Linked DNA regions of Homo sapiens: region 1 is linked to region 2. The links come from fine-mapping of genetic effects on plasma protein levels. A gene starts in region 2. The other region holds a variant in brackets. All regions are shown on one strand. Distances are from middle to middle.

What was found. PIP is the chance, under the fine-mapping model, that this variant and not a neighbour inherited with it causes the effect. Protein levels are from antibody-based Olink assays in UK Biobank. Linkage for the fine-mapping came from a reference panel and not from the study's own genotypes, which makes the PIPs less certain.
Region 1: its variant is fine-mapped to the plasma level of the CD276 protein (UK Biobank, PIP above 0.99). The variant lies in the coding sequence of CD276. If it changes the protein, the assay may bind it differently, which can mimic a change of level.

What each region holds. Positions count from the first base shown.
Region 1 is chr15:73,703,293-73,706,139 of GRCh38, reverse strand. CD276 (CD276 molecule) reads right to left here. Exons shown (of 10, transcript NM_001024736.2): 5 at 2,143-2,481; 6 at 1,668-1,964. Among named protein-coding and RNA genes, the nearest start is that of CD276, 20 kb to the right of the region's middle. The variant C/T (reference allele first, on the strand shown) is at 2,143.
Region 2 is chr15:73,682,676-73,685,575 of GRCh38, reverse strand. It overlaps CD276 (CD276 molecule), which reads right to left and starts at 1,193. Exons shown (of 10, transcript NM_001024736.2): 1 at 1,116-1,193. RefSeq lists enhancers at 272-778, 1,796-2,304 and silencers at 763-812, 973-1,102, 1,113-1,242, 1,363-1,412.

The DNA of each region.
Region 1 (2,847 bases), 21 kb before region 2:
TAGCTGGGACCACAGGTGCATGCCACCACGCCCAGCTAATTTTTGTGTTTTCAGTAGAGACAGGGTTTCACCATGCTGATCAGGCTGGTCTCGAACTCCTGACCTCAAGTGATCCACCCGCCTTGGCCTCCCAAAGTGCTGGGATTACAGGTGTGAGCCACCATGCCCAGCCCTAAATTTTTTTGAAATCACTTTAAATGTTAGCTACTCAAGTTTAAAATAGAGAATTTTCTCTTAGGTGAGATAAACATTCTCTTTGCAATCACATTTATACTCATAAGTCCTTTCTGCACAGCATCGCAAATATCCAGCTCAGCCCAGGGTGCAAATGACCACAAAGACCCCTTATCCTTCAAGGCCTTCTCAGCTCCCATTTGCCCCTGGAGGTGTCCTCACTACCACCCTCCCTCCTCTGAAAGCTTCATATCCTCTGCCAAGATCACTCTATCTTCTATTTCTTCTTTTCGCCTGTGAACAGCATTTTCACCACCAAACCATATGCTGTTCTCTAAAAGGTCAAGGACATGTCTCAGAACATTCAAGAGCTCAGGGCAGCTACTCTCTCCTGGAGAGCACAGGAAGGGAGTGTTTTCCATCTTGGGGAAGGGGTGGGCAGAAGGAGCACAACCTTGCCAGAAGGAAACACGTAAGAGAGAAGGAGGAGTGAGCCTGAACTCCAAGCAGACGATGTGACGGGCCCTGGCTCCGAGCTTGTCAGAAGTGGGGACCACATAGGTCTCAAGAGGGAGAGGACAGGAATAAGTGAGTCCTGAGGTGCATGCAGACCTGGAAACTTGGGGTGAGATCAGAACTTGGATGGGCTGAGGGGCAGATGGAAGTCATCAGAAGACAAGAGGAGAACCAGACAGACAAAACCTGCTGTCCTGACCTCACTGTGCACCAGGGCGAGGTCCCTGGGAAAGCTCAGTTGGCCAGGGAGAGATACTGAAGAGCCAGACTGAGCACGTCGGCCCAGGAAGTGACTGACCAGAGGCCTCTCAGGGCCAAACACAGATGGAGACTGCGGCTCTTGACCTCAACCCTCTTCACACCCTCAGGCACAAGAGGTGCCCACGAGGCTAGAACCTGGAAACCAGAGACTAACAATCACTAAAGGGGTGGCCTCTATCTGGTGTTTGACCACACGGGGGCAGCAGAGACAGCCCCTGCCCATCCAACGGCTGCCTGGGTGGAGCGCAAGTCTGCAGGAAGAAGAGCTGACGTTGACTCAGGTGTTGGGGACTAACTAGGGAGGGCCAGCTGTCACTCAGGCTTCAGAATCAGATGGCGCCCACTGACCCAGAATACCTTCCTACCACTCAGAGGAGTTCCTGCTGGAAAGCACACCCACACCAAGTCCCCTGGGCCACACCTTGTGGCTGCCCCAGAATTCCTGCCCATGCCTCCAAATTTCGGGCAGGTACCTTGTCCTCTGCATAAGAAGCATAAGTGCCACGAAAAGCACTCTTAGGAAGGCAAACATTATAAATGGTTCTTATCAGCTCGAGTCCCTTAAGGACTTGTGGGGAAGAGTGTGAGCACCTGAAGTCTATGAAAGGGATTTTGAAAGTCTTCTGGCCACCCAAACCTATGGAAATTCCACGTTAGGGTCCAGTAAAGAGGGAGTTACTCGCTCCGTCCTTCCCCAGCTGTTCATCTGCCCTTACCTGTGATGGTGACAGAGCCGTGCGCATCCTGCTGCAGCACGGGGTTGCGCACCAGGCAGCTGTAGGTGCCATTCGCACCCAGCACCACCCGCAGGACGCTGTGCACATCAAACAAGCCCTGCTCGTTGGCCATCTGCGACGTGGTCACGTTGCCAGTCAGGGGCACACCCTGCCCATCCTGCCAGAACACCTCAGCCTCAGGGTAGCCCCGGTAGCTGGAGCACGTGATGGTCACCGTGTCCCCTGGCCGCAGGTCCTTGTTGGGCTCCAGGGTCATGCTGGGCTTCGAGTAGGGAGCTGGAGGTGACAGAGGGCAGGGGTCAAGGGCAGGGCAATGGCAGGGGAGGAAAAGGATGCATGGGGCTGAGTACAGGAATCAGCACTGGGGTTCTGGGAGCAGTGGTGCAGCAGAGGGTGGGCTGCAGAGGGAATGGAGGGTGAACCAAGGGGAAGGCGTCGCCCTCCTGGTGCTCAC[C/T]GGCCACCTGCAGGCTGACGGCAGCGCTGCCGAAATCCCGGATGCTCACGAAGCAGGTGAAGCTGCCCTCGTCCGCCACACGCACGCGCTGCAGCCTCAGGGATGCATTGCCTTGTGCCAGCAGGTCCGGGAAGAGGGCCGTGCGGTTGGCATAGGCGCTGCCCTGGTCCCGGCCTTCGGTGAAACTGTGCACCAGCTGTTTGGTGTCTGTCAGCTGCCAGATGAGGTTGAGCTGTGCCAGGCTGAAGCCAGGCTCGGGGGAGAAGGAGCAGCGCAGGGTGGCATCGGTGCCCACTAGGGCCACCACCGGGTCCTCAGGGACCTGGACCTCCACGGCTCCTGGGGGCGGGGTCAGAGGGGCAGGGTGGTGAGGAGAAATGGGACTCTCTAGGCTACCACCCGAGTCCCCCAAACTCTTCCCCCATCAATTCCCAGACCCTGTTCCATCTTCCTATTTTCTTCTTAGATGCAAAAGCAGATTAAGTCTGAGGACTCTCAGATATGGAGTCTCCCCAATCTTCTGAGAACAATCACAGCAGGTGGGTCTTGGCCTGACCAGACCAATCCCAGGGCCAGGCCTGGGGCAGGTGACTCTCACCAGCTCCAGCCCTGGTGAATCCTGCCATCAGGACTCCTTTCCTTCGCCCACCCCTCTGCTGACCCAGATGTGGCTCCATTCTTCCCAGAGGCTTCCAGAGCCTTGAA
Region 2 (2,900 bases):
GACTCATTTACAATTATCCACATCCAATTTGAAGGTAAATCGTTTTTCTAAATTAAGACAACTAACACCCCCCCACCCGCCACACACACACACACACACACACACACACACACACACACACAAATCTTTTTTGCTTTACTATTTGCTTAATGTTTTCCCTCAGTGATAGATCCCATATCTGAGTCATCTATCACGCTTTTCTCATTAGAGCAGGTTTGGCTTAGAAATAAATCCCCTGCCTTAGGCTGCCAAACCTGCCAATTCGCTAGCTAAACGGTCGCAGGGAGGGCCCTGGGCGCTGGAATTCAATCCCCTCCCTTCTAGTGTGCCCCCACTCGGGGTCCCCACCTCCCTCCACCGTCGCCCGCATCTCCTCTCCATCCCACCTCACCCCCCACCTCCCTGAGGCTTCCCAAGCCCAAACTGCCCATCCCAATTCCCTCCCCACCCCCAACACCTATTCACCCCGTGGCCCCTGCCAGCCGTCTCTACCTGTCCTTCCCGGAATCTGACCCCTCATGCTGCCCACGGCTGCCTGTGGAAGTGCACCAGTCGCCCACACCTTCGCCCTGCTGGGCCCTGCAGAGTGGACACGCCTAACCACTCGCCTTCCCTCCCCGCCGCTCCCCTCCCGGAGCTGGGCGTTTTCCTCTGCAGGACCCGAGACCCCGCTAACCTCCCAGCGCCGGCCGGTGGCTTCGTTAAGCTTCAACACGGGACAGATCTGCCCCCATGCCCGCTCCAGACCCGGGGCCTGCAAAAGCGCATTCACCCACCCGGCCCGGTCCGCAGCTTCCGGGGTCTGCAGGTCCGACGGCGCCCGGGCCCCTCTCAACCCGAGGAAAGGGGGGCGGGGTAGGATCCGGGAGCCCCCAGCTCTCCGCGGGCCCCACAGCCCAGGGCAGGAGGGGCGCCCGCGGTTCCCGGGACTCCTGTGCGAGGGGGGCCGCCCGGACCTGGGGGAGGGCAGGGGAGCAGGAGCCCGGAGGGAAGGCGCCCTGCTCAGCTCCTGCAGCCCTGAGCGGGAACGTGCGGACCTCCGCGGGATCCAGGCCCGGCCCGCAGCAGACAAAGGCCGCCCCACCCCGCGCCGCCCGCGCCACGCCAGCACTCACCGCGCCGCGCCGACTCTGGGACTCAGGGACGCGGCCCAGCCTGGCTCAGTCGCCGCCGCAGCGAGGCCCGGCCCGAATGGGGGCCGGGGGCGGCCCGGGGAGTCCGAGGGGCGGGGCGGGCCGCGCCGGAGAATCCGCCTGAGGCCCGGAAAGGCGGCTCCGGTGCGTCCCTGAGGCCGGATTGGCCCCGCGGTGGCGGCTGCTGACCGAGGCCTGAGCCAGCCCGCTGGGCAGAGCACACGGCCTGGCCCCCGCCCCCGCCCCGCCCCGCCCCCAGGCCTGACCCTGGCGGGGAAAACCCTCGGCTCCCGGAGCAGGGCGCTGCCCATCCCCCACCCCGTTCCCACACTTCCAAGAGCCGAATCTTCCTTTCTGCGAGAGGGGATAGGTGACTGACTGGTCATCGACTGGCGGCAGAACAGGGCTGGAATCCTGCTGTCCAACCCCAGTCTTGGGTTCTTCCTCCACACCATGCTGGCACCACAGCCCAGAAAGGGTTAACTCGACTGCGAGGAATTAAGAGCTGCAAGGAGCTCTCTATAAATACAGTGTCGTGGGCGCCTGAGCCAACCGCAGGACAATTTCCACTGAGCTGGTTTTCCTCTTTTCCTTCCACCCACGGCCATCCGACCAGCCCTGCCCCCAGCCCCACCCCAGACTGCTGGCCGGACTTGGCTCCAACAGGCCTGACACCTAGTGGCCTTGGGCTCTGTCCTTACAGGGCCCCGCTCCAGCCTGGGAGGAGATGGGGGTCGGGCCTGTCCAGATTTTGCTGTGGTGCAGCCCATCCCTGCACCTGTTCTTGGATCTGTTCTTCCTCACAGGGACAGTGACAGCTAAAACGTAGGGAGACTTTTGTGGGCCAGAGTTAGGTTAGGAGCTTTCCATGCTGGGCCTCTTTAGTTCCTCCAAACAGCCCCGCCGGCTAGATATTATTATTCCCATTTCACAGATGAGAAAACCAAGGCTCAAAGGGATGAAGGGACTCCAACCTTGTACTGCTGCCAGGCTCACCACCAGTGCCAGTGGCAGTACTGGGCAGGGCTTGGGAAATGAGTATGAAAACATGTGCGTCTCTCTGCATGTGTTGCCACTGTTGTAAGCTCTTTACCATTTTATCTCATTTAATCTTCACAACAACTCATTGAGGTGAATACCATTATTCTCATTTTTACAGATCGGAAATAAGGAAATTAAGATACAAAGAGATTAAGTAACTTGGGGACACATAGCTATGAAGGGAGGAACCGGGATTTGCCCTCTGAATTTAAGTGTGCGTGTGGTGTATGGGTAGGGGTGGTGGTGCATGGGTGTGTATATTTGTGGGGGGTTTTTGTCTTTTTTTTTTTTTTGAGACAGAGTCTGGCTCTGGAGTGCAGTGGCTCAATCTCGGCTCACTGCAACCTCCGCCTCCTGAGTTCAAGCGATTCTCCTGCCTCAGCCTCCAGAGTAGCTGGGATTACAGGTGCGCACCACTATTTTGGCCAGGATGGTCTCGATCTCTTGACCTTGTGATCCACCCGCCTTGGCCTCCAAAAGGGCTGGGATTACAAACGTGAGCCACCGCGCCCGGCCGGGTGTGTATATTTGTGAACACATTCAAGCAACTCTGTATTTGAGTCTACGTGCATATGTGTCTTTGAATCACACAGCAGCTGTGTCTGTGTAATTGCTGACTGCTCCTAGGGATGACAGCAGAGAGGCCCAGCTGTCTTGTCCCTGACCACCTCCAGGAACTCTGGACCATTCCACGCTGCTCCCCACTGCCCTGCCAGGCCCTGACCA